Homo sapiens: one gene and its partners. The protein of the gene in region 1 purifies or fractionates together with the protein of each later gene. This does not show direct contact. Each region holds a gene or a part of one and is shown in the gene's direction. Other genes may lie near its edges. The genes, in order: CLGN, LNPEP, TCTN2 and SLC12A2.

Region 1 (7,027 bases):
AAGAGGGTGACATTAGCACTAAATGTTCTACCCTATACCATATAAACAAATTCTTGCTGTACTAAAATTATATAACTTAAACAACCATACAGATCAATAAAGAAATAGATAACACCACAAGCCAACTAAACATAATAAACATATGGACAACACTGTACCCAACAATAGCAGAACACACATTTTTCTTAACTGCACATAGAACATTCTCCAGGATAGACCATATTAGACCACAAAACAAGTCTTAATGAATTTTAAAAGATTGAAATCATACAAAGTAAGTTTTCTGAACACAAAGGAAAGGAACTAGAAATCAATAGTAGAAGGAAAACAAGAAAAATTCACAAATATGTGGAAATTAAACAGCACACTCTTGAACAATGAGCCAAATAAGTCTCAAGAAAAGTTAGAAAAACATCTTGAGACAAATGAAAAGGAGAACAAAAGATACCAAAACTTATGGGATACAGTGAAAGCAGTGTTAAAAGGGAAATTTATAGCTTTAAGCACTTACATGAAAAACAAAAGATCTCAAGTTAACAACCTAACTTACACCTTGAGGAACTAGAAAAAGAGCAAATGAAACCCAAAAGTTAGAAGAAAGAGGGAAATAATAAAGATTAGAGCAGAGAGAAACAAAATAGAAAATAGAAAAACAAGAGAGAAAACAAGTGAAATCAAGAGTTAATTCTTCGAAAAGGTCAACAAAAAAATTAACAAACCTTTAGTTAGATTAAGAAAAATGAGAGAAGACTCAAATAACTAAAATTGGTAATGAAAGGACATTACATCTGATTCTACAGAAATAAGAGGGATTATAAGAGAATACGCTGAAGGATTGTATGGCAACAAATTGGATAACCTAGATTAAATGGATACATTCTTAGAAACACACACTCTATCAAGATTAATCATGAAGAAGTAGAAAATCTGAACAGACCTGTAACTGGTAAGGAGATTGAATCAGTAAACAAAAACTTCCCAGCAGATAAAAGCCCAGGACTAGGTGGCTTCACTGGTGAGTTCTACCAAACATTGAAAGAATTAACACCAGTCCTCCTCAAATTCTTCCGAAATATTGAAGAGGAGTAAACACTTCCAGATTCATTCTATGAAGCCAGCATAACCCTGTTATCAAAGCCAAAGACACTACAAGAAAACTACAGAGCAATATTCCAGATGATTATTGATGCAGAAATTCTTAACAAAATACTTGACAACAAAATTCAGCTGCATATTAAAAGAGTTATATACTATGACCATGTTGGATTTATTCCTAAAATTCAAGGATGATTCAACATAAGAAAATCAGTGTACCATGCCACATTTACAATGTAGGGAGGGGAGAACACATGATCATCTTTATTCATGCAGAAAAAGCATTTGACATGATTCAACACTCTTTCATAATAAAAAACACTCAGTACACTAGGAATAGAAGGAAACCACCTCAACATAGTAAAGGTCATATATGAAAAGCCCACAGTTAACATCAGACTAAATGGTGAAAGACTGAAAGCTTTTCCTTTAAGATCTAGAATAAGACAAGGATGCCTGCTTTTTCCACTTCTCCCGAGCCAGAGAAATTAGGGAAGAAAAAGAAAGAAAAAAGACATTCAAATTGAAAAGGAAGAAGTAAAATTATCTCAGCAGATAACATGATCTTATATGTATGTACAAAACCCTAAAGATTTCACGAACACAATACAAAAGTCTGTTAGAAATAATAAATGAAGGCCAGGCATGGTGGCTCATGCCTGTAGTCCCAGCAATTTTGGAGGCCAAGGTAGCCAGATCAGTTGAGTCTAGGAGTTTAAGACCAGCCTGCGCAACATGGCAAAAACCATCTCTACAGAAAAATACAGAACATTAGCTGGGCATGGTGATGCTTGCCTGTAGTCCCAGCTACTCGAGAGGCTGAAGTGGAGGATCACCTGAGTCCAGGAGTTCAAGGCTGCAATGGGCCATGATGGTGCCACTGCACTCCAGCCTGGGTAACAGAGTGAGATCCCATCTCAAAAAACAAACAAATGAATTCACTAAAGTTGCAGGGTAAAAAAACTAGCACACAAAAATTAGTTGCACTTCTGTATACTAACAATGAACAGGAAATTAAGAAAACAATTCCATTTATAACAACATAAAAAAGAATAAAATACTTAGGAATAAATCAAGGAAGTAAAATACTTGTACATGAAAAATTATGAAATGCTGCTGAAAGAAATTAAGAAACAAATATTAATCAATGGAAAGACATTGTGTTCATTGGGATTGGAAGACTTAATAAGATGGAAACACAACCCAAAGTAATCTACAGATTCAGTGCAATCCCTGTCATAATCCTAATAGCACTTTTTGCAAGAATAGTAAAATTCATATAGAATCTCAAGGGACCCCAAATAGCCAGAACAATCTTGGGAAAGAATAAGTTTGGAAATCTCACATCTCTGTTTCAAAACTTATTACAAAGCTATAGTAATCAAATCAGTGTGAGACTGGCATAAAGACAGACATATATATCAATGGGATACAATAAAGAGCCTAGTAATAAATTCCCACATATATGTTCAAATTTTTTTTATAAAAGTGCCAAGACCATTTTGTGAGAAAGGACAGTCTTCTCATGAGATGATATTGGGGAAACTGGCTATCCACATGCAAAAGAATGAGGTTGTAACCTTACCTTAAATCATAGACAAAAATTAACTCGAAATGGATTGAAGACTTAAACATAAGAAAACTATAAAACTGTTAAAAGAAAACATGGAAAGCTTCATGACATTGAATTTGCCAGTAATTTTTATATGACACCAAAAGCACAGACAACAAAAGAAAAAATATATAAATTGGAAAACTCAAAATTAAAAAGTTCTGTGCATCAAAGAACACAACAAAATGAAAAACCTATGCAATGGGAGAAAATATTTGCCAATCATATATTTGATAAGGGGTCAGTATCCAGAATTTGTAGGAACTCCTACAACTCAAAACAAAAACAAAACCTGATTTTTTAAATAGGCAAAGGACTTGAATAGACATGTTTCCCTTGAAGATGTATAAATAGCCAACAAGCACATGAAAAGATACTCAGTATCACTAATCATCAGGGAAATGCAAATCAAACCACAATATGATACTACGCCATATTAGGACCTATTACAATGACTACTATTTAAAAAAACATAATTTTGAACAAATGTTGGCAAGGATGTGTAGAAATTGGAACCCTTGTGCCTTGTTGGTGGGAAGGTAAAATGGTAAAGCCACTGTGGAAAACAGTATGAGGATTCAAAAAAAAATAGAATTATCATATGACCAAGCAATTCAACTTATGGGTATATACTCAAAAGAATTGAAAACAAGGTCTCGAAGAGTTATTTGTATACCCATATTCATTGTAGGATTATTCACAACAGCCAACAGGTGGAAGCAACCCAAGTGTCCACTGACAGATGAATGTATAAACAAAATGTGGTGTATACACACAATGGAATACTGTCCAGCTTTAAAAAGGAAGGAAATTTGATACATGCTACAACATGGATGAAGCTTCAGGGCATTATGCTAAGTAAAATAAGCCAGTTACAGAAAGACCAATACTGTATGATTCCACTTATATGCAGTACCTAGAGTAGTCAAAATCATAGAGATAGATATTAGAAAGATGGTTTCCAGGGGCTGGAGGGAAGGGTAGTGGGGAGTTGTTAAAAGTGTATAGCGTTTTAGTTTTAGAGCATGAAGAAAGTTTTGGAAATTAGTTGTACAACAATGAGAATGTTTTACCACGTGATTTAAAACAATTTTAAATGCATAAATTAACTACTTCATTTTCTTGTAGTATTACCCCAGCATCTGACCTCTCAGAGTTTCAGTACAGACTTGTCAATAGCATACCTCTCTCTAAGAAATGAGATGTCACAAACCTCATAGTTTTGTTTGGAACTTAATAACATGTTGGCACCATTGTGAGACAGATTTCAAGACTGTGAACTTCAGTATCTAATTCTCAATTGTCAGCTGGTGCAGCACTGAAGAATGATAGGATACTGCAGCATTACGCAGAAAGTATTAAGTCTGTATTTCTGATTTTTTTTTTTAAAAAAAAGAACAAATAAAAACAATAGAACTGCATTGTCTACAGAATGCCTTCTAACCAATTGCAGTTCTTTAAAACTCTCTGTTTTTGTTTTGTTGATTAGGAATAGTACCTACGCTATTCATGTCCTGGGCTGTAAAGATTAAATTAGCTAGTTCTTTGATGTAAATATAAGATCATAGAATTTTAAAGAAGAAACAAACTTTCAAGATAAAGTGTTTTCTGAACTGTTTTCTGAAGCATTGGCAACTATTTCTAAGGAAAAGTCAGGAAAAACTATAATATAGAATACAAATAAAACTGGGGTGCTCTGGTTGAGTTAAGGGTAGAGTTCCAGATAGAGCACTACCTGCTTGGCTTCCTCTTAACTCTTTCTTGGCAGCCCAGTACACCAGAGTTCAAACAAAGCACTTAGAATGTTTTTTTTTCAACAAATTAATTGTTTGGAACCTAAAGTGTACATTCATTTGAAAGAGAGGATATGGGTCTAAAGTTATATTAATGTTCATTATTAGTAGTATTATTTTATGTGTTTTTATTTTGCTCAAAAATGATTAATAGCCAGTCAAGCAAAGTGCCTTTTACTATGTAACATGGAAGGCCCTTAGGCTTTTAGAACAATGAAGCTTTTAGAGTTCACAATTAATAAGCAATTTGCAGATATACAAATTTCTGTGCCAATAACTAGGAAATTAAGGAAATAAGCCTATTTCATTGTGTCAAATTGATCCCTTTACATTTACTTCCTATCCCAGTTATACCTCTTTTGTGATTTAGAGAGATCAAATCCTAGTTAATGACAGCACCCATCATTTTTGTCTTTGTCCATAAATATATAAGTAATTATGTAATTGTGGAATTATAGGAATTATATATGCAAAAGAACTTTCTCCATAGCAGTCTACCTGATTACAATAAGCCCTATATTTGTTTGATCTTTTGAATGTGCTTTGATTTTAGTAAAACTCTACCACATTAAATTTGTGATAAAAAAATTTTTGTATCTTTTCTCAGCATTTATATATAAATGTATTTTGGTTTTATAATTATAAAATTTCCATTTTTATGTTTATATACACTTAAGCAACATTATAATAAAAACAATTTCAGTGAACATTTAGGAATCATGATACTTTTAAAGAGGTCTACATATTATTTGTGTTTGATAACTACTATCATCTTTATCTTTAGATTTTTTTTTTATTATACTTTAAGTTTTAGGGTACATGTGCACATTGTGCAGGTTAGTTACATATGTATACATGTGCCATACTGGTGCACTGCACCCACTAACTCGTTATCTAGCATTAGGTATAACTCCCAATGCTATCCCTCCCCCGTTCCCCCACCCCACAACAGTCCCCAGAGTGTGATATTCCCCTTCCTGTGTCCATGTGATCTCATTGTTCAATTCCCACCTATGAGTGAGAATATGCGGTGTTTGGTTTTTTGTTCTTGCAATAGTTTACTGAGAATGATGTTTTCCAATTTCATCCATGTCCCTACAAAGGACATGAACTCATCATTTTTTATGGCTGCATAGTATTCCATGGTGTATATGTGCCATATTTTCTTAATCCATTCTATCATTGTTGGACATTTGGGTTGGTTCCAAGTCTTTGCTATTGTGAATAATGCCGCAATAAACATACGTGTGCATGAGTCTTTATAGCAGCATGATTTAGAGTCCTTTGGGTATATACCCAGTAATGGGATGGCTGGGTCAAATGGTATTTCCAGTTCTAGATCCCTGAGGAATCGCCACACTGACTTCCACAATGGTTGAACTAGTTTACAGTCCCACCAACAGTGTAAAAGTGTTCCTATTTCTCCACATCCTCTCCAGCACCTGTTGTTTCCTGACTTTTTAATGATTGCCATTCTAACTGGTGTAAGATGGTATCTCATTGTGGTTTTGATTTGCATTTCTCTGATGGCCAGTGATGATGAGCATTTTTTCATGTGTTTTTTGGCTGCATAAATATCTTCTTTTGAGAAGTGTCTGTTCATGTCCTTCGCCCACTTTTTGATGGGGTTGTTTGTTTTTTTCTTGTAAATTTGTTTGAGTTCATTGTAGATTCTGGATATTAGCCCTTTGTCAGATGAGTAGGTTGTGAAAATTTTCTCCCATTTTGTAGGTTGCTTGTTCACTCTGATGGTAGTTTCTTTTGCTGTGCAGAAGCTCTTTAGTTTAATTAGATCCCATTTGTCAATTTTGGCTTTTGTTGCCATTGCTTTTGGTGTTTTAGACATGAAGTCCTTGCCCATGCCTATGTCCTGAATGGTAATGCCTAGGTTTTCTTCTAGGGTTTTTATGGTTTTAGGTCTAACGTTTAAGCCTTTAATCCATCTTGAATTAATTTTTGTGTAAGGTGTAAGGAAGGGATCCAGTTTCAGCTTTCTACATATGGCTAGCCAGTTTTCCCAGCACCATTTATTAAATAGGGAATCCTTTCCCCATTGCTTGTTTTTCTCAGGTTTGTCAAAGATCAGATAGTTGTAGATATGCGGCGTTATTTCTGAGGGCTCTGTTTTGTTCCATTGATCCATATCTCTGTTTTGGTACCAGTACCATGCTGTTTTGGTTACTGTAGCCTTGTAGTATAGTTTGAAGTCAGGTAGTGTGATGCCTCCAGCTTTATTCTTTTGGCTTAGGATTGACTTGGCGATGCGGGCTCTTTTTTGGTTCCATATGAACTTTAAAGTAGTTTTTTCCAATTCTGTGAAGAAAGGCATTGGTAGCTTGATGGGGATGGCATTGAATCTGTAAATTACCTTGGGCAGTATGGCCATTTTCACGATATTGATTCTTCCTACCCATGAGCATGGAATGTTCTTCCATTTGTTTGTGTCCTCTTTTATTTCATTGAGGAGTGGTTTGTAGTTCTCCTTGAAGAGGTCCTTCACATCCCTTGTAAGTTGGATTCCTAGGTA
Region 2 (7,027 bases), on another chromosome or scaffold:
TTTATTCGGCAGGTATCAAGTTAGAATGTATGGAATTGTGAATAAAATTATATTTTATTTTATGAAAATATTTTTATATAATAAAATTTAAAAGGCTGGTAAGCTAAAAAAATAGTCTTCTTTAATCCTAGTGTGTTTTCCCCAATTTAGTCTTTTCTAAAATTTATCTGTTTTAGAGTAGAAAATATTATATCCTGAGAATCACAGAATCATCTAAATATGTCTTATTCAACTGAAGTGATTGTAAGTCTTTATTCTTGTGCTTTGGTTAAATGAATGATAATTTAGTTGATAGTGAAAGTTAATGTGTTTTTATATTTTTAGAGTGAGGGAAAAATACTAAACTTTTGAGAGTTTTGTTGTCGTTGCTGGTTTTTTACCATGTGGTACTAAATTCCACTTTGATACAAAATTTAAATTTTGTAACTTCTCAAAATCACTTAAGATTCTTCAGTTTTACCTGTGCTTCTTGACATCGCTCCTATAATGTATGTTAGTTAACTCTGCATATGGCAAATCTTGTCTTGAATTATATCATTTCTCTCCCTCTCTCTCTCTCTCTGTGTGTGTGTGTGTGTGTGTGTGTGTGTGTGTGTGTGTGTGTGTGTGTAGTGTGGGGGGTATTGTTATGAGTAAAACTTTATCAAAACTTGGCCTGAAAAAGAGATAACTCATGATCCATTGCTATCTTTATTACTCAAAGGCTGTTCATTCCCATAATACCAGATCCATAATAGTTGTAGTTTTTTTGATGTTGTTGCCCTTACCTTAATTATTTGTAGTTTTAGTAGGCCTTGCCTCAGTTTTTCCCACAGAATTCCATAATTTTAATGTTGAACTAACCCATCTATATAGGACTTCTAAAAACTACGTCAGGAATGTAAGGTTAAATGAGAGGTAGAACTTGTAGTGTAATAGGTATAATGGTAGCTTTCAAAGTTTTATCTTCTCAAAACATTGTCTTAGCCAGTGTATTTCTGAGAACTCAGACTGAAGCACAGAAGTCACAGTATGCTTCTTTTATTTAAGCACACAGATTCATGACACAAGTACTTGTTGAACAAGTGTTCTCATTGCAGAGAGATCTACTTGAATATAAAAGGGTCATCATACTAGATTATTAAAAAAGAATTGGAAATCTTGAGTTGTGGAAGAAATGTTTATGCTTTGGAGATCTAAAAAAGTTATGAATGTAGGAATTAGATAAGTCCAGTTTGTTCTGTTAATATAAAATGGTTAGATATATTAAACTGCAAGTAGTATCAGCTTCACCATAAGCTTGGGCCTTCCTCCATCTTGTTTTATTTAAGTCTCTTTAAATGAAATTTTGTTGTCATTGTTTCAGCATTCATGAACTTTCTTACTATCACAGGTTCTACTTTAATTTTCCTTGCCATATGTGTTTCCATTTTGTGGGACATTAGCCACCACAGGAACACAAGAGTTGTCAGAAGACTCCTGGGTGTACAGAGCAAATCAAGCTGCATCAGTATTATAGGATACCAAACAGAATCCTTTCTATTAGGAAATAAGAAATCAGTTAAGTGTTGGCTGGGCGCGGTGGCTTATGCCTGTAATCCCAGCATTTTGGGATGCCAAGGTGGGCAGACCATTTGAGGCCAGGAGTTCTAAACCAGTTTGGCCGACATGGCAAAACCCCATCTCTACTAAAAATATAAAAATTAGCTGGGCATGGTGGTGCACACCTGTAATCCCAGCTACCTGGGAGGCACGAGAATCACTTGAACCCAGGAGGCGGAGGTTGCAGTGAGCCAAGGTTGTGCCACTGCACTCCAGCCTGGGTGACAAAGCGAGACTGTCTCAAAAAACAAAAAACAAAAAAAAAAGAGTTAAGTGTTGATTTTGTTGGATTACTGACAGTTTGTTGAGATGGATTTTAAAAAGAGTCTATTTAAACCAAAGTACCTGGAACCATAATCTGCCATCAGATTGCTAAACATTCACATAATCCCCATGTTTCATGGGGCTTCAGGGAAGGCAAATACATCTGAGATGAGCCACCTCCAAGGACAGCATTTCCTGGGCTGCAAAACTAGATGTGGATTTTGTTACTTAGGCCTCTCTAAAAACTGAGGCCATGGATATGACATAGCTTTTCTTCTCACCTATGCCTTTGTTACTTTTGTATTTATTGGAATTAAATCTCTTTTTAAAGAGCTTCCTTCCCCCTTCATCCCATTTGTATTTTTAAAAACTAAGTTATATATATATTTGCTTGTTTTTGCATTCTTTTATTTTGTGCTCCATTCCCTGCTTTGCCAGTTAAGTACTACCTGAAAAGTAGCGGTTCAAAAGTATGGTAAATCTCCTCCCTTAACCTTATTGCCTGTGTGGGTGACAGCTAATGGAAAAGTTGATCGATTTTTTTCAGTGGTTTTTTTGGGAGTATATACTTTAAAAATGTACATACATGTTTTTGATAGTTTTTATATTATTTCATTTTGTATATTTTTTTCCTGATGAAGAGTGATATATCATCCTATGAAAATTTCATCTACCCTTCCCATTTTACCTGTATGGGCAGTAGCTACAGACTAGTTATTTGGTTTCCTTCTTTGGAAGAAGGTGGTGATGTTGAGAGGAGAGCAAGCTATATTCTTTTAAAAGTGTGTACAGATGTTTTTGCTATTTTGTGTTATTTCATTTTGTATTTCATTCATCCATTTTGTGGACGTGTAGATAAAACGCGGTGGTCCAAAAGCATGACAGATGTCCCCTTTGCGTTTCTCCTTATTGTTCGCATGGACAATAACTGACAGAGTAGTCCTAGTTGCTGTTGTTTTGATCTAGTCTTGGGGCTGGGGTTGTATATTATTCTTTCAAGTGTGTATAAATATTGTGCCACCTTTTTATACTTCATTTTATACTTGTTTCCTTGTATGGATGCATATATACTTAATGAAAATTGAGGTTCAGAGTATGACAAATCTCTTTTCCCTTTTCCTTACTGCCTATTTAGGCAATAGCTAATAGAGTAGTTTGTTTTGTTTTGGGGTGTGGGGGAGAGTGGAGTATGTACTTAATGTATATAAATAAACTTGCTACTACATTGTATTACTAATTTGGTTCACACTGTGTCCTTCTCATGGATGTGAAAGTACCAATGAAATGTGGAGATCTCGATGTATAACAGTCTCCCATTCTCCTCATCCCTTATTGACTGCTGGGCAGTAGCTAACAGAGTAGTTGTCAAGTGGCGTATTTGAGGTGAGGGGGAGGGACGGGGAAGGTAGGAAAATGCACTTAATGTATATACATGTTTTTACTACTACATTGTATTAATTCATCGGGTGCCCAGACTGAAAGGTACCTAATGAACCATGGAGTTCCGGATGTATAACAGTCTCCTCTTTTCCCTTTCCCTTATTGCCCATGTGGGCAATACTTAAGAGTAGTTTGGGTTTATTGAAGATTTTTTGCTAGGAGAGAGAAAATTTTTTGCTAGGAGAGGTTTCAAGGTAAGAGTATATACTTTAAACATGTATATAAATGTTTTTGCTACTTTTCTGTCACTACCTTTCTTACCTTGTCCTTTACATGGATATATGAAGAAAATTGAGGTTCAGCCTGTAGCAGCTCTCCTCTTCTGCCCTTCCCTTAGATTGTCTGTGTGGGCAGGTGTCTAAGAGAGTAGTTGATTAGCTTCAGGGATTCTTTGGTGGGTGTTGGGGTATATACTTTTGTATATGTATGTACATATTTTTATTTCTTTATTATAGTGTTTCATTGGGTACCCGGTCCTTCACTTGGATGTGTAGGTTCCTAATGAGCCATGGAGTTATGGATGTATAACAATCTGTTCTCCCTTTACCCTTTTAATGTATATGGGCAATAATTTTAAAGTAGTTTGGATTTTTTTAAGTTTTGAGGGGTGGGAGGGGTCTAAGGCAGAATATATCCTTTTTAAAAATGTATATATACTTTTCATTAACTATATTGTATTATTTCATGCTGTACCCAGTCCATTGCTTGGACTTACGGGTACCTAATGAAACGTGGAGGTCCGGATGTATGAAAATCTCCTCTTTTCCCCTTTCCTTATTGCCTCTGTAGGCAATAATTATAGAGTAGTATAGATGGTTTTTCTTTTTTATCCATCTGCCTATCTCCAGGAGGATGGGGTGTGCACTTTTAGAAATGTATATAAATGTTCTTGCTCCTTTTTCCTGTTACTTCATTGTGTGCCAAGGCCTTTCCATGGATACTTAGGTACGTAATGAAAATTGAGGTTCATTCTATGAAAAAATCTCCCCTTCTCCCCTTCCCTTATTGCCTGTCTTGGCAATGGCCAGTAGAGTAGTTATTTAAGGGATTTTGTTTTTTTGTTTTTTTGTTTTTTTTTTGGTAGGGGAGGTGGGGAATTTCTGGGTTTGTCTTTTTTTTAATGTATATAAAAGTTTGCTAGTTGTTGTTATTGTTGTTCTTTCACTCTCAACACAGTTTTTTGTTTGGAGTTGTAGGAATCAAATGTAATGAGGGACCCAGACCCGAGAGTGTGGTAAATATTCTTTGCCTTCCTCAGAGCCTGTATACACAAGCAAGTAGTATGTGAGCACTACAGGGCTTGGGTTTTGGTTTTTTGCTTTTGAGGGTTTTAATGAGGAGTGGGATTGTTGAGAGGAAAAGGCAAGATATATAATTTTTTTAATGTATATAAATGTTTTGCTCCTTTTTGATGTTAACTTCATTTTGAATCTGGTCCTTTGTATGACCACTTAGGTACTTAATAGTAATAAAGTTGAGATTGACTCTATGAAAAATATCCCATACTCCCCATCCCTCATTGCCTAGGGGGCAATGGTAGAATAGATGTTTGGTTTCTTTTGGGGGTGTCTGAGTGTATATGTGTGTGTATATACACACAAGAACACACATATTTATATACTATACACACACATTTTAATGTATATAAATATTTGCTACATTCTGTGTGTTATATAATGTGGTACCCAGTCCTCTGCTGGGACATGGATGTACATAATGAAACATGGAGGTCCAGACGTATGATAACTCTCCTGTTTCCCTTCCCTCATTGCCTACAGGGGCAATAGTTTCATATCTTGGGTTTTTTATTGTTTAATTTTTTTTTATGGGGAGGGGTTCTTTGGGTGGGTAATAGTCAGGGGGAAAGGACAGTGTCTATACTTTTTAAAGATGTATATAAATGTTTCATGTTATTGGTTTTGTACCTAGTCCTTTGCATGGATATATAGGTACCTAATGAAAATCGAGGATCAGTGTATGACAAATCTCCCATCCTCCCCTTTCCTTATTGCCTGTGTCGGCAATAGGAAGTAGAATAGTTGTGTGTTGTTTACTTACTTGTCTGTTTTAGAGAGATTTCTATTTTTGGTAGGGGAATATTCTTAATATGTTTTCATATCTTTATTTCATTTTGTAGTCTTTTGCATGGCTATGTAGGGACCTAATGAAAGTCGAGTTTCATAATATGACAGCTCACTTCTTTTCCTACATATTTCCTCACTTAGCAGTAGCTAGTGTAGTTATTTTGTGGTTATTTTATTTCATTCTCTAGGATCTATTCCATTAAGGATGCAAGTGTGTAGATGCATATATATCATTTGCTTCTTTCTTCCGCCATTATTTTCCTTTAACACTTAGTCCCTTGCAAGGGGTCTGACTATACCTAACAAAAATAAAGACCTACTAAATCCCTGCCATCTGGCTGGAAGGTGTAGCAGTGTATTAATGTAACTAATAGCAACAGGTGTGCAGCAGATAAGACAGGAGAAGACACTCAGCTATGGTTGAGTTGTGAAAGCTAATTAGATCCAGCATTTCTTATGTTGATTCAGATTGAATGAGGTAGTGAAAAGGGACCTGTGCTTTTGTAAATTCTAGAAAGGCAAGAGGACAATATTGAATAAAGCTGTGTTTAAACTTCATTGCTCATATATCTTTTAGTAACTGGTAAACCGGCGAAGCTGATAAGCCAATAAGAGTGCTGTCTAGAACGCATTTGCAAACCGTTAAGAGTAGCTTCTTTTTGAGGCCTGGACTTCTGATTCATCTATAGAAGTCTATTATGATTCCATCAATTGCATAGCTTGTGTACCTGGTAGAAATTGTGTCTTGGAATGACCCTTTCGAGTTATTGACATGGCTCTGATGAATAGAACATGAGCCCCAAAACTAAATCCAAAAGGAATTTTCTATCTTTCATCCCCCACATGTGGCAAGACAAGTTGGCCCTTTCTTACCCAGAGGTCTTTTGTGTGACTGCATCTTTCTCCTCCGTTCTCCATTGTGTGCTTTCCATTTTGTCTTTAGTGCCTATACTGTTAGGTGTTTTCTTCACTGGCATTCACAAATTTAAGCCATTGCTGCCTCATTAGCCTTGTATTTTGTGTGCATATCATGTATCCAGACCTGTATGTTCGCTTTAAGCATTCTTATATCACACTGTCTCCTCATCTACCATATGGTAAATGTTAAAACTCCACATTTGTCTGCATCAGGGAAAATGCATGGGCACACATCCTCCCTCCCTCCCTCTCTGCTCTCCTCCCTTCCTTCAGGCCTCTTAGCATTGTTTGTTTTCCCATTTCTGATACTACTACTCCATGCTGAAGATTTGCCATATTACTATTTTGGAAACATTGAGTGATAGAACTCCTAGAAAATTTGCAAAGAAATGTTACATACTGTATATCAAACTCTCAGATTCTAGTGTTGAAAAAGTAGCCTATACTTTGCTATTACTTATACCTGCTGCCATAGAAAAAAATAAGTTTATTCATGACACATTTACATTTGATCATAAATAAAAGAAAAAAGGGCACCTTTTTGGAGTTAGTCATGGTAGTCATTAGTGATATTTCTGAACAGTTCTTAATTTAAAATACTTCAAAGGAAGTAAAGGTCATGGCTTAGCTGAAGGAAATGCTCCAGAAATTGGACTGTGTAAACCATCAGTACAATAATACGCTGTGTATGTATGTGTATATAAAATGAGAATTATGGCATAATTGGAGCATTTGCATTA
Region 3 (7,576 bases), on another chromosome or scaffold:
AGTCTCACTCTGTCACCCAGGATGGAGTGCAGTGGCATGATCTCAGCTCATTGCAACCTCCACCTCCCGGGTTCAAGTGATTCTCCCACCTCAGTCTCCCGAGTAGCTGCAATTACAGGCACCTGCCACCACGACCAGCTAATTTTTTTTTTTTTTTTTTTTTAGGCAGAGTCTCGCTCTGTCGCCCAGGCTGGAGTGCAGTGGTGTGTTCTCAGCTCACTGCAAGCTCTGCCTCCCGGGTTCACGCCATTCTCCTGCCTCAGCCTCCCAAGTAGCTGGGACTACAGGCACCTGCCACCATGCCCAGCTAATTTTTTTGTATTTTTAGTAAAGATGAGGTTTCACCATGTTAGCCAGGATGGTCTCAGTTTCCTGACCTCGTGATCCTCCCACCTCGGCCTCCCAAAGTGCTGGGATTACAGGCATGAGCCACCGAGCCCAGCCTAATATTTGTATTTTTAATAGAGATGGGTTTTCGCCATGTTGGCTAGGCTTGTCTTGAACTCCTGACCTCAGATGATCCACTCACCTTGGCCTCCCGAAGTGCTCGGATTGCAGGTGTGAGCCACTGCGCCTGGCCTCTTTTTTTTCTTTTTCTGTGGAGATAGCATCTTGCTGTATTGTCCAGGCTGGTCTTGAACTCCTGGGCTCAAGCAACTCCTGGGTTCCTCTTGCCTCGGCCTCCCAAAGTGTTGGGATTACAGGCATGAGCCATCACACCTAGTCTTAAAATCTATTTTATCTGATATAAGTATATAGCTACTTTTGCTCTTTTTTGGTTTCCATTAGAATATCTTTTTCCATCCCTTTATTTTTAGTCTATGTGTGTCTTTATAGGTGAAGAGTTTTTATAGGCAGCTAATCATTAGGTCTTTTTTTTTTAAATCTATTCAGCCACTCTATGTCTTTTGATTGGAGAGTTTAGTCCATTTACATTCAATGTTATTATTTATAAGTAAGGACTTACTACTGCCATTTTTAAATTTGTTTTCTGATCTTCCCTTCCTCCCTTCCTTCCATCTTCCTTTTTATGAAAGTGATTTTCTCTGGTGGTATGTTTTAATTTCTTGCTTTATATTTTTGTGTATCTGTTGTAGGCTTTTTGATATGAGTTTAGCATGAGGCTTGCAAATACCATCTTATAACCCATTATTTTAAACTGATGACAACTCTGATTGCAAAAACAAGCAGAGAAAACTAATACTCTAACTTCATCCCTCTGATTTTTAACTTTTTGTTTCTACAATATTTATATCTTATTATACTATGTCTTAAAAAGCTGTAGTTATTATTTTTGATAGGTTTGCCTTTTAGTCTACTACTCAAGATATGAATAGTTTACATATTTGTAGAGGTGCCACCTTGGTGATCTTGGGTACGATCTTGGAGAATTCCCTGGATCACCGTTAGCAGTGACGAGTCTGTACAGGTCTGCAGCAACTCGATTCTTGCCTCCTCAGAGGAAAGAATTTGGCCAAGCAGCATAAGGCAGAGTGAGAGACCAAGGCAAAGTTTAAAGCAGGGGTAAACGTTTATTAAAAAGTTTTAGAGCAGGAATGAAAGGAAGTAAAGTACACTTGGAAGAGGGCCAAGCGGGCGACTTGAGAGATTCAAGTGCCCCGTCCGACCCTTCACTGGGGGTTTCTATACATTAGCATGGTTCTGAGGTTTGTGCCCTCCCTTGATTTTTCCTTGGGGTGGGCTGTCTGCATGTCAGTGGCCTGCCAGCACTTGGGAGGGGCCGCATGTGCAGTGTGTTTACTGAAGTTGTGCGCATGCTCATTTGAGGCATTTTCCTTTACCAGTCGAGCCTTCCCAGAGGAAGGTTATATACCAGTTAAAATCTGCCATCTTGCCTCTTACTATGTATGCATGAGCCTGCTTGCCCAACTCCTGAGATCTTATCGGGAAGCTGCTGATCACCAGCTTCAAGTGTTTTCTATCTTTTTTTTTGAGATGAAGTCTCACTCTGTTGCCCAGGCTGGAGTGCAGTAGCGCGATCTCGGCTCACTGCAACATCCGACCCCTGGGTTCAAGCGATTCTCCTGCCTCAGCCTCCCGAGTAGCTGGGAGTACGGGCATGCGCCACCACGCCCAGATAATTTTTGTATTTTTGGGTAGAGATGGGTTTCTCTGTGTTGCCCAGGTTGGTCTTGAACTCCTGGCCTCAAGTGATCCATGTGCCTTTGCCACCCAAAGTGCAGGGATTACAGGCATAAGCCACCAAGCCCGGCCCAGAAATGTTTTCTTTTGGGAGGATTTATCTCTTAATCTTTACCGCTTGGCCTTGCCAACTTAATTTGCAGATTAATTCCCCCCAAAGACAGATGGGGAATAACAGAAATATTTAAGTGTTTGACAGCTTCCTCTTAGTAACGTTCTCCTAGGCTTCATTCCAAGATATCAAGAGAGGTAAACATTTTGCAGTCTTCCAGAGAGGAGCTGAGGTACACGGGAAAAGTTTCATGCTCATGTTACAACTGTAGTGACCCACAGTTTTTCAGGGAGTATAAGAAAAAGATAACACCCAGTGTCAGGCCCTTATAAAGCCTCAACTTTCAGAATCCTTTCACAATGTTAGATTTGCTGATCAATGAATATATAACTGAACATTAAGAGTAATAATGGGGCTGGGTACGGTGGCCCATACCTGTAATCCCAGCACTTTTAGAGGCCAAGGCAGGAGGATCACTTGAGCCCAGGAGTTTGAGACCAGCCTGGGCCACATGGTGAAACCCCGTCTCTATAAAAAATACAAAAATTAGCCGGGTGTGGTGGTGTATTGCCAGTTACTTGGGAGGCTGAGGTGGGAGGATCAGCTGAGCCCAGAAGTTTGAGGATGCAGTGAGCTATGATTGTGCCACTGCACCATTCCAGCCTGGGTGACAGAGTGAGACCCTGTCTCAAAAAGAAAAAAAAAAAAGACTAATAATGGCAAACATTTACTTGGCATTTACCGTCAGTCAGCCACAATGCTGAACACCATGATTGTCTCAGCTAAAGGATACACCACCTCTCTGATAGTTAACAAGTAACTGATCATTAACTGAGTGCTTACTGTATGCCAGCCATTGGTTTAACCTCATTAGATATGTTACCTCATTTCATCCTCACACAATCCCCAAGGAAGGATTATTATCATCCCTTTTTTATAGATGAGGAAGCTGAAACTTAGAGAGGTTGACTTGCCCAAAGTCACTTAACAGCTGAGAATATCTGTGGAGGGAAGGCGAAATCCCATGCCAGGCAGCCTGACCTCAGACCCTGCACTCTCAGTCCCCAAGCCGTGACAATATTTGAAATGTTCTGAGGCTACTGATATAAGAAAAAACAATTTTTTTCCAGACAGAATTTTGATTCTTTCACATCTGTCCTATTGCTGGGCAAAACCTCTTGTGTGTTCTGTGATTGGATCTGCTTTCAGAGTGCTGAGAGCTCTGTGCAGGGGAGAAAATCCTTCAAAAACCTAGGAGAATGATAATAAAAGCAATAGTGATAATAAATGATAATGATAAGAATTATAAAAATATAAATTTTATAAAATTATAACATATAAGTATAAAATTTACAAAATATATACTTATATAAAAGATAAATATATATAAGATAAAATATAAATACATATATATTTTATAAGATAAATAAATAAATAAATATATTTTTGAGACGGAGTCTGGCTCTGTCGCCCAGGTTTGAGTGCAGTGGTGCAATCGCGGCTCACTGCAACCTCCGCCTCCCAGATTCATACAATTCTCCTGCCTCAGCCTCCTGAGTAGCTGGGATAATAGGCGCCTGCCACCACGCCTGGCTAATTTTTTGTATTTTTAGTAGAGACGGGGTTTCACCATGTTGATCAGGCTGGTCTCAGACTCCTGACATTGTGATCCGCCCGCCTCGGCCTCCCAAATTGCTGGGATTACAGGCATGAGCCGCCAGACCCGGCCTATATGTATTTTATATATATCAAGTATGTATATCTGATATATATATATAAAACAAAGTATATCTATTTTGTAAATATATATTTATTTTATAAAAATATAAAATATAAATAATACATCATAAACGATAGTAAAGATAATAAACACAGCGCGGCAGCCCCATCCCCTTTTTCTACTCACCCCTAAAACAAATCCGTATAAAAATCAAGTTTATTAAGGAGCAAGTCCCACCCTTTTTATTTAGAAGCCAGTGTCTATAGGATCGCTCTTGGCTATTGTTGGATTAATTCCAGGGTAGGGGAAAACTCCAGTTTTTGAGCCGGACACGCACTCCTGCTTTTCAGGACCTTTTTAATTTTGATGTTTTCAACTTTTAGGCCCAGGGGTCCATGTACAGGTTGCTATATAGGTAAATTGCGTGTCACGGGGGTTGGGTGCACAGATTGTTTCGTCACCCAGGTACTAAGTGGAGCACCGGATAGGTAGTTTTTCAGCCCTCACTCTCCCCACCAGAGTCAAGCAGCAAAAATGCTAGGCCTTGTGGGCGGGGCCGGGGTGCCCGCTCTTGCCACTGGTCCAATCACAGCGCGGCGTTCCTCCTGGCCGGCCGCCGATTGGTGGTTGCCATAGCTCCGGGCGTTCGCTTGCAAGATGGCGGCGGCGGGGCAGTGGCTGCTGCGTTTTCGTGTCTGAGTCCTTCCTGGGTTCTAATGAGGGCGCGGTTCTGCTGTGCCCGGCCCGCGAGGTCTAAGGCATGGGCTTCCAGCCTCCGGCCGCTCTTCTTTTGAGGCTTTTCCTTCTGCAGGGCATCCTGAGGCTTCTGTGGGGGGACCTGGGTGTGTACGGCGCGGCAGTGACCTCGGTGGGCCGGGGCTGAGGGGACTGGGCGTTAAAAGGGCCAGACTTGGACTCCCCCGGGAGCTTCGGGAGTCGACAACGCCAAAGCAAGCCGCCACACACACCTTAGGCGGTGATTCTTCCACTGCTAACCCCTCCTTGTCCCCTTTCCTTCCCGCCTAGCTTTCATCCCTCCTTTTATCCGAATGTCCGGCCCTGCGGTCAGCGCGTCCCTGGTCGGAGACACCGAGGGTGTGACCGTGTCCCTGGCAGTGCTGCAGGACGAGGCGGGTAAAGTCCGGCCCTCTTTTGGGGAGGGTGGGGGTTGGACTGGATCCAGACCTCCCAAGGAGCCTGGAGAGGTGGCATCCTTGGGGCCCCCTGCCTCTGTTCTCTGCAAAGTCGCATGGGGAGAAAAGGATCGGGCGGCTGCTGTAGGCCAAAGAGGACAGACGGACAGGTTCGAAGAAAGCCTGAAATAATAATGGTTAGCATTCATTGAGCTAACATCGTGCATCATCCCATTTTCCTAGTAAGAACAGTAATATCTTTTCATCCCCTTTGACCAAGGAAGAAACAAGTTCAGAGAGGTTGTCACTGTCCCAGTGTCAAGCAGCTTGTAAAGGGCCCAATCTTAGGCTGTAATGTGAGTCCATCCTAGGCAGTCTGACTCAATGCACCCCCTGAGCTGCTGGACCTTGCTGCCTTTGCATGCTGGTCTTCTTTCTTTAGGAATATTGCCAATTCCGACGTGTGGAGTGCTGAACAATGAGACGGAAGACTGGAGCGTGACTGTGATCCCCGGTGCGGTAAGGCCAGAAGTAAACCTTCTCTGTAGCCTGTGAAGAGGCCCCCAGCTAGGGTTTCTGCAGTGCTCTCTTTATTTAACAAGGCATGGCTTTCTCCATGCTCTCAACAATCATGAAATTGTGGGCTGTTGGATCTGGTAGACACTTATCCAGCCCACGGGTTCCTTACCCTGGGGTTAGGAGTCCTTGGATGTATTTCAGTGGGTCTGTGAACTCTATGAAATTGTATGTAAAGTTCTGTGTGTATGTGCATTTTTCTGATGAGAGGGTCACCAGTTTCCTTTAGATCATCAAATGGGTCAGTGATTCAAAAAAGCTTTATGCCAGGCATCGTGGCTCACGCCTGTACTCATAGCGCTTTGGGAGATTGAGGCGGGAGGATTGCTTGAGCCCAGGAGTTCCAGACCAGCCTGTAACATAGCGAGACCTCGTCTCTACAAAACAATTAAAAAAAAAATTAGGTGGGTGGCGTACACCTACAGTCCCAGATACTTGGAGGGGGGTGGGGTAGCTGAGGCAAGAGGATTATTTGAGCCCAGGAGTTCAGGGCTGCAGAGAGCTATGATCGCACCACTGCACTTCATCCAGCCTGGGCAACAGAGCAAGACCCTGTCTCTTAAAAAAAAAGAAAAAGCTGGTCAGGCGCGGTGGCTCACGCCTGTAATCCTAGCACTTTGGGAGGCCGAGGAGGGCGGATCATCTGAGGTCAGGAGTTCAAGACCAGTCTGGCCAACATGGTGAAACCCATCTCTACTAAAAATACAAAAATTAGCTGGGCGTGATGGCGGGTGCCTGTAATCTCAGCTACTTTGGAGGCTGAGGCAGGAGAATCACTTGAACCCGGGAGGCAGAGATTGCAGTGAGCCGAGATCACGCCACTGCACTCCAGCTTGGGTGATGAGCGAGACTCCGTCTCAAAAAAAAAAGCTTCATAACCACTGATCTTGCCCAACTCTGAGCTTATGTGTAAGGATACTCAAACCTGGAGAGATTAAGCATCTTCTATTTAATAAGTGTTTATTGGATACCTAGTATATGCAACATCAATTCTGGAGAGAAAAGGACAGGAAAGACAAGCTCTGCTTGTACCCCAGGAGTGAACATGTACATGTCTAAAGTCATTCTGGGATAAACTGAGGATTGTTTTCATTGACTTTTTTTGTGTATTTACTCTTCCACTGATAGGATGATAAAGAAACTAAAAAGGTGTACAATAAACTGAGTTTATTTATCAGATCTGTGTTTAGCTTTCTCTAAGTATCCCGAAGTTGTTTGCTTTTATGTTAAGGAAGAAGAATCAGGGCTTGCATGTTACCATAGGTTTATGGGGGGGAACTGAAGATAACTGTGTCATCTCTGTATACATTTCCCTTTTATAAAATGAACGGAGGCTGATGTGTACTTTTATTGTGTTTTCCATTATGTATTCTTATAGACCCTGTTTTGAGTCACTTTAAAAATACAGCAATGTTTTCCTTTCAGAAGGTGTTGGAAGTGACAGTGAGGTGGAAGAGAGGTCTGGACTGGTGTTCCTCCAATGAGACAGATTCCTTCTCAGAGTCCCCCTGTATCCTCCAGACCCTTCTGGTTTCAGCATCTCATAATTCATCCTGTTCAGCACATCTACTCATTCAAGTGGAAATTTATGCCAACTCTTCTCTGACCCATAATGCCTCAGGCAAGTGAAGTCTTTGACTGTCAAAACTTTCATGTTGTTCCCAGCTACTTAGGAGGAAGAGGTAGGAGGATTGCTTGAGCCCGGGAGGTTGATGCTATAAATGAGCTGCCCGGGAGGTTAATGCTACAAATGAGCTGTGATCGCGCCACTGCGTTCCAGCCAGGGTGACAGAGTGGGACCCTGTCTCAAAAAAAACCAAAAACAAAAACAAAAAAAGAAAAATTTGTGTCAAGCTTACCTGTTTGATTATAAGTGTATGCCATGCAATTTGTAAAGTATACTTCACTTGAGTCTGTCTTGCTTTTCTAAAC
Region 4 (7,027 bases), on another chromosome or scaffold:
GGTGTTAAGTAGTACAAATATGACTATACATCACTGTCGAAAGAGGGGCAGACAGGAGGGGTTATAACAGGTTGGCTGGATCCCCAGAAGTTGTCCCTTACTCTGTCTAAATTGACTTCTACCTCTCTAACACCTTCTGTAATGTTTCTAGCCTTCAGTGAATTATAATATTTAGAATTTTTATAACACCTAATTCTAGCAGTCGATTGATTGGCATATACTCTACTTTGGTCTACTAAGTGCATAATTATCTACCATGGGACTAACTCTGTGTTGGGAACTACAGAAGAAGAAAAGAAGTAAAATACTTCAGAAACTTGTTAGGGAAAAGGACTGGATTGTCTTCCCTCCAGTTGAATTCCTTTCATTATCCATCACTGACTTTTTAAAAGTATTTTGTCTAGATGTCCAACTGTAGGGGAAAAGATAAATATCCTTGGTGCATCTTGCTATATTATATAGCCATTCTAGGACCAGTAGGCATGAGTTCTCCATTTATGAGTTATTGGGGAAGGGGGTATCTTAGATGTTGACAACATGCTTGTGACATTGTGGGATTATGTGGTGATTAGCAAACCAGTTACTGCTTCTGCCTAGACAGACATTAACAAAGTAGTTGGACAAATAACATAGTTAATAACTGTTTTTTAAGTGTTACGAAAGAAAAGGATACTTGTAAAGATAGAATAGGACCTAATTTTAATTGGGTTTTGGGAAGGCGTTTTTTTGAGAAGTATGACATTGAAGCTGAGACCTGAAGGGTAAGTTGATGATTGGGTGGAATGACAGTCCTGACCAAAGGGACAGCGCACATGAAGGTAATGGGGTGAGAAAGAGTGGTATATTAACATAACTAAAAGGAGATAACTATTTTTCATTATAAATGTAGTGGGACGCTATTGAAGAATTTTGTGTGGGGTAGCCACATGACCCATTTTGTTTTAACATCTTTAGGCTCTGGGTGGAGAATGGATTGGCAGGGGCAAGAATGGAAGCAAAGAGACTCAAGTGATTACTGTGGTCTGGTTGAGAGATAGTAAAGGTTGGTGGCACAAAGGATTGGATGTGGGAGTGAGAAAGAAGCTGACTTGTAGATTTTGAACTTGAGAAACTTAATAGATGTTGGTACTGTTGCTTGAGATGAGAAATACTGGAGGAGGAATAGATTTGGTGGTTGGGAGAAGTTTGTATTTGAGGCTATTCTGTTTCAGTAGCCTATAAAGACAAAGACAACTTATTCCAAGAGTCGTGGAGGAGGCTCTGTGTGTGTGTGTGTGTGTGTGTGTGTGTGTGTCTGTATATAAACATATGTAAATATATATATTTACATATAAAGATTTGGTTGCTTAAGGTCATGGACTAAATTACTTAGGGAGAGTGGTAGATAAGAGAACAGAAAATAGGGTCTGGCATTGGACTTGGAGATTGTTTAAAGGTCTGTTAGAGATTGAGGAGCCATTAGCAAAGGAAATTAAGGAAGAGCTGCCATACTGTCAAATAGCCTGGAGAGCAGTGTTGGGGGAAGCTGAGAGAAAAGAGTTTTTGGAAAGGCAGAAACTCTTCAAAGCTGATGCTAGGAATTGATTTAAAAATGTATATACGTACACACACAGAGTGAAAAATCAAAGTATGGATTTTTGGCCCTACAAGAAGAAATAAAAGGTGGAGGGTAACAAAGTATTTGATGGACATCTTCAACATGTATGATGGAATGCTAGATTATCAAATGTGGAAAGTGGAGTGGTAGACAATCCATACTAGCTCCTACTGGATTTAAAGCATTATTAAAGTAGTTTTTTGTTTTTGTTTGTTTGTTTTTTGTGTGTGTGTTTTACTATTTTGTGTTTTACTATTTTGACTGCTAAACCATAATTTCTAATATTTTTGTTTTTAAAGGTAGCATTACCATTGCAGTTGTCCTTGGGCCAAGGCTTAGGAGCCTTTTGCTGGTGGTATGTCAAGGGTTTCTATATGATTCCTGTATTTTTGCCTTTCTCATTAACAAGGGGAAAGGTCAAGGGAGCAACTATATTGTCTTTCATGTGTCACTTTGCTTGTTGGATTTTCATTAATTCCTAAGAAATAGGTCTTATACACATTTTACTCAAGATGAAATGAGCTAATAGAAACAGAAGAAATTGGCCAGGTGCGGTGGCTCACTCCTGTAATCCCAGCACTTTGGGAGGCCGAGGCGGGTGGATCACCTGAGGTCAGAAGTTCGAGACCAGCCTTAACAACATGGTGAAACCCTGTCTCTACTAAAAATACAAAATTAGCCAGGCGTGGTGGCGCATGCCTGTAATCCCAGCTATTTGGGTGGCTGAGGCAGGAGAATTGCTTGAACCCAGGAGGTGGAGATTGCAGTGAGCCAAGATTGCGCCATTGCACTCCAGCCTGGGCAACAAGAGCAAAACTTTGTCTCCAAAAAAAAAAAAAAAAAGAAAGAAACACAAGAAATTGCTTAATAGCCACTTTTACAAAAAGTGCAGCTGGAGGACAGGCACCATGGTAGGAGCCTGTTGTCCCAGCTGCTTGGGAGGCTGAGGCAGGAGGATTGCTTGAGCCCAGGAGTTTGAGACTGTAGTGCACTGTGATTATGCCTGTGAACAGCCACTGCGCTTCAGCATGGGCAAAACAGCAAGACCCTGTCTAAAAAAAAATAGTAGTACAGCTCAATTTGGACTTCACATCCAGGTTTTTCTGACTTTAATGCTAGGACATAGTAGCAGCAGGTTCTTCTCTCTTTATCTTTTCTATCCCTTAGACCTGTTCTAAGATAACAAAGATGTTGAGGGGGACCCCTTGGGGATTACCACCACCATTTCTCTACCTTGAACTCCTGAGAGTTGAATGATTATATAACTGACAGAAATCAAGAGATGTGATGATGTAAATATTATTATGACTTCTTCACTAGCATCTGTATAAGTGTTTATCTTCATACAGAGAATAGGCACTTAATAAAGATTTGTTCATGGAATGTACAAATCAGGTGAGCAGTTCCTGTCACTTAACAAGGACTTTAAGTAAAACACTAAATAATTACAGAATCTCCTCTAACCATGAGCTGCTTCTCTGAGTGGGCTGTGTTGATGCCTAGTCAAGAAATTTCACACACTATTAATCATTTCAGTGTATAGCTTTAGTCCTTGAAAGTCACCCTGGGGGAACAAGAATGTGTCTCTCGAGGGTGAGGGGAAGAGTAGAGTAGTGTCCAGAACTGGGTAAAGGTGGGACCCTGATAAGAAATATTTACATGTGGCAAAGTCAAATTTGGCTGATTTCACAGTTTTGCCAGGGGCTTTGCCCTGCTAAACCCATGCTACTTGCCATTGAAGTCAGGCTTACCCATAATACTAAATGCATTCCCCCAGGTGTACACTGACTGAAGTAGTTCTACAATGCGGCAAACAGGTAAAATTGCAGCTACTGCTTTGTTAAATAGAAAACAGCTTTTAATTTTTAGCATAAAAATTTCCTGGGTAGAAGGAAAGAAATTTTGGGATTTAAAATGTAGCAAAAAATCAGTACACTGCTAAATTGATATCTTCTCTGTGTGTATTTATGTTCATACATTTTAAAATCCTGTGAGACTAGAATTTAAAGGACCAAAATAGAGTTTCTTGGTTCTTATGTGTGGAGTGTGTTTGCTTTCAATGATATTTCATTATATGTTACATATATATATTTGGGAAGTCTATAGTATAGTCCTATGCTGAAGTGAAATAAATGTGAACCTAGTTATTCAACAAATCCTTGTTGAACATCAACAACAACACTGTTCTAAATGCTGGGGATATAGCAGTAAACAAAACAAAGTCATGGGGCTTTCATTCTAGCGGTAGGAGACAATAAACAAACAAAATTAAAGCAGGGCGAGGAAAATTAAAGGTGGCTAGATGATGGCTGGGTGATGCTGTTTTAGCATTGTTAGGGAAGACCTCTGATATGTGAGCAGGCTCTAGAAAGGGGTGACCCCCATGCAGATACCAGGGAAAGAACACTCTAGGCAGAGGAACAACAGATACCAAGACCCTGAGATGGGAGTGTGCTTGGTGTGATGGAGAGACAGGGAGGTCAGCAAGACCGAATTGATGAGGCAGTGTGATAAAGTCAGGGGGTAGTGAGGACCAAATAGCGCAGAACCTTGCAGATCATGATAAAGACTTAGGATTTTACTCTGAGTGATTTAGGGGAAGGCATTGTAGGGTTTTGAGCACAGATTTGACATGATCTGACTTATGTTTTCAAAATACCACGCTGATTGTTGTGTAGAGAATATACTGTAAGGGGGCAAGAGTAGAAGGCAGGAAACCAGTTAGAAGCCTACTGCAATGGTTCCATTAAGATGATAATGACTTTTACTAAGGTAGTAGTGATTGATACAATGAGAGGTGTTCAGATGCTGGATGTGTTTCAGAGGTAGAATTGTTGGGATTTGCTGATGGTTTGGATGAGGGGATGTATGGACAGAGTAATACTAGGGTTTTCCCCCTATTTAGAATGGAGTTGATATTAATGGAGAAGTCTGTGAGAAGGGCAGGTTTGGGAGATGGACTCAAGATAGGGTTTCATTCTACAAATTAGTTCTCCAATGAGGCAAACAGGTAAAATTGCAGATACTGGTTTGTTAAATAGTAGAACTTAAGAAAACAGCTTTCATTTTTAGCGTAAAAATGTGCTTTTGCTCTTCAGGTAAAACCATGAAAACTAGTAGTCTTTCAAATACTGTACAAAGGGGTAGGGAACTAGTGGGTTGATTCCACAAAGTGAAAGCCCACTGAGGGTGAGCAACAAGGAAAATTACTTAAAATACTGAAGTTAAAAACATTAGTGGTGTCTCATTTAAACCATGAAAGCTACTATCAGCTGAGGCCCTCCTTTGTCTTTTTCCATTTTCACTAGGATCTCTACCAACACTAGCTTAAAGCTATTATGAAAAACTTGGAGCTGGTAGAGAACTTGGGGGTTTCTAATTGGAAGAAGGGGGAAAGCCAAAAAGAAAAAATAGCTTAGTGGAATGTTGACTCTCAGCAGAAGCTAATTATGGCTAGTACACTCATAGTATCATTGGACTCAGAAATTTCCCTGCCTTAATTTTTAAAAAAATTCTGTGCTTTTTCTGAATAGTCACAAATTAGATATTCATCTAGGTTCAGAATTCTGGAAACCTGTGGGATAGTTCTTTGTTGGGTAAGTGTGAATTAGTTCTTCCATCAGTTTAGTTTCAAACAGAATTTGGTATGGTATGCTAGCCATTTTGGAGACTTTTGCAAGGGAGCGTAGGTGGTTTGGCAGGGCAGGCTTGAGTATTCCAGTGGGGAAAGACTTAGAGGACCCTAATCATTAGAGACCTGCCCTTCCCACAGACTTCTCCATTAATATCAACTCCATTCTAAATAGGTATTACTCTGTCCATACATCCCCATCCAGACTATCAGCAAATCTGAACAATTATACGTTTGAAACACATCCAGTATCTCAATACCTCTCATTGTATCAGTCACAACCACTTTGGTAAAAGCCCATTATCATCTTAATGGAACCATTGCAGTAGCCAAGATGAGAGGAAGGGGGTGATTAAAACATTTAGCTGCAATTCAAGAATTGGGCTATAGGGCTGACGGTCTTGGAAAGAGGTAGGAAACTTCACAGAGCATGTCTGGACTGAGGACCCCAGTCCGAAGTTTGGACTAGCAGTTGTTGTGATTATGGCCTGTTACCATTTAAGGTCTTTATCAGTGCTGTCCGATAGAAATATAATATGAACTACATATGTCATTTAAAAAAGTAAAGAATCAGGCAAAATTAATTTATAATATACCGTATTTTATTTGACACTGTGTCTAAAACATTCATTGCAGATATAATGAATATTAAAACATTTATAATGAGATATCTCAATTTCTTTTTTTTGTACAAAGTTTGAAACCCCGTGTGTTTTTCACATACAGTACAGCACATCTCAATTCAGACAAACATTTCAATGGTGTTGAAGTAGTAGCTCCTTGTGACCTTTGATTACTATATTGGACAGTGTAGATGTAAACAGTACTTGGCAGTTTGGTTCTGAGGTCCTATGATTTTCATTTTTCTTCTTGGATATTTAACTGTTCCTGTCAATAGTTTACTTCTGTTAAAGAAATTTGAGTAGCTTCTATCTGACAGAAAAAGCGGAATATTTTATTTAACTCTCATTCCTTTCCAGGTACAAGCTCTTTCCTTCCTTCCTCAGCCAGACTTGTTGAGAGTATTGTTTATAATTGCCGTCTTTCCTTCCTTACCTTTTACTCAAACTGCTGTAGTGTGGCTTCTATTTTGCATAAATAGTTCTTGTTAAAGTCACAAGTGATCTCCATTCTTATCACAAATTTCAGGAAGTTTTTGTTTTGTTCTGTTTTGTTTTGTTTTGAGCAGTGTTCAGCTTTCAGGCAGCATTTGGTGTTCTTTTGAAGTGTTTTGGTCACTTCCTTGGCTTCTTAGTTTTCCTTCTGCCTTTCTGACTCTTTCAGCCTCGCATCCTTTGCAGTCGCCTCCTTCTCTAACCTGAACATCCTCAAGGCTTTATTTGGACTTTTCTCCTTCCTTGTTCCTCTTTTTTCTCTCCTTATGCTACATCATCTGTAGTCCAATGACTCCCGAAATTTCGTCTTCTACCCACACTCCTCTGAGTTCTGGGTATCCAATGCTTGCTTGACATTTTTGTTTTATGTCTCAAAGATAACTCAAGCTCACAAACTTAGTATTTCTTCCCATTCCCTCCAGAAACAAGAATCCAGGCCCTCTGCCAGTGTGTGCTATATCTCTCGGAATGGTACCACTATTCATCATACTGCAAAAGTGAGAAACCTATGAGTCATCCTTGACACTTTTCTCTCATTCCCCCATCCAATCACTGAGTTCTGTCAACTTGAATTTCTAAATATTCTTTTCATCTAAGCTGCTACCATCCTATTAGGTTGGTGTAAAAGTAATTGCATTTTTTGACATTGAAAGTAATGCCAAAAACCGCAATGACTTTTGCACC

Evidence for each region.
Region 2: the proteins of CLGN (region 1) and LNPEP purify together in Homo sapiens (co-immunoprecipitation; 2 studies listed by BioGRID and IntAct, with this or other methods). This does not show direct contact.
Region 3: the proteins of CLGN (region 1) and TCTN2 purify together in Homo sapiens (affinity purification with mass spectrometry; 3 studies listed by BioGRID and IntAct, with this or other methods). This does not show direct contact.
Region 4: the proteins of CLGN (region 1) and SLC12A2 purify together in Homo sapiens (co-immunoprecipitation; 3 studies listed by BioGRID and IntAct, with this or other methods). This does not show direct contact.

What each region holds. Positions count from the first base shown.
Region 1 is NC_000004.12:140,417,622-140,424,648, reverse strand, and holds part of CLGN (calmegin precursor), read left to right. Parts: intron 1-7,027. UniProt on the Homo sapiens protein: Functions during spermatogenesis as a chaperone for a range of client proteins that are important for sperm adhesion onto the egg zona pellucida and for subsequent penetration of the zona pellucida.
Region 2 is NC_000005.10:97,030,060-97,037,086, forward strand, and holds part of LNPEP (leucyl-cystinyl aminopeptidase), read left to right. Parts: 3' UTR 1-7,027. UniProt on the Homo sapiens protein: Release of an N-terminal amino acid, cleaves before cysteine, leucine as well as other amino acids. Degrades peptide hormones such as oxytocin, vasopressin and angiotensin III, and plays a role in maintaining homeostasis during pregnancy.
Region 3 is NC_000012.12:123,666,546-123,674,121, forward strand, and holds the start of TCTN2 (tectonic-2 isoform 1 precursor), read left to right. Parts: upstream 1-4,567; 5' UTR 4,568-4,695; coding exon 4,696-4,777; intron 4,778-4,961; coding exon 4,962-5,069; intron 5,070-5,510; coding exon 5,511-5,587; intron 5,588-7,069; coding exon 7,070-7,265; intron 7,266-7,576.
Region 4 is NC_000005.10:128,086,747-128,093,773, forward strand, and holds part of SLC12A2 (solute carrier family 12 member 2), read left to right. Parts: intron 1-7,027. UniProt on the Homo sapiens protein: Cation-chloride cotransporter which mediates the electroneutral transport of chloride, potassium and/or sodium ions across the membrane. Plays a vital role in the regulation of ionic balance and cell volume.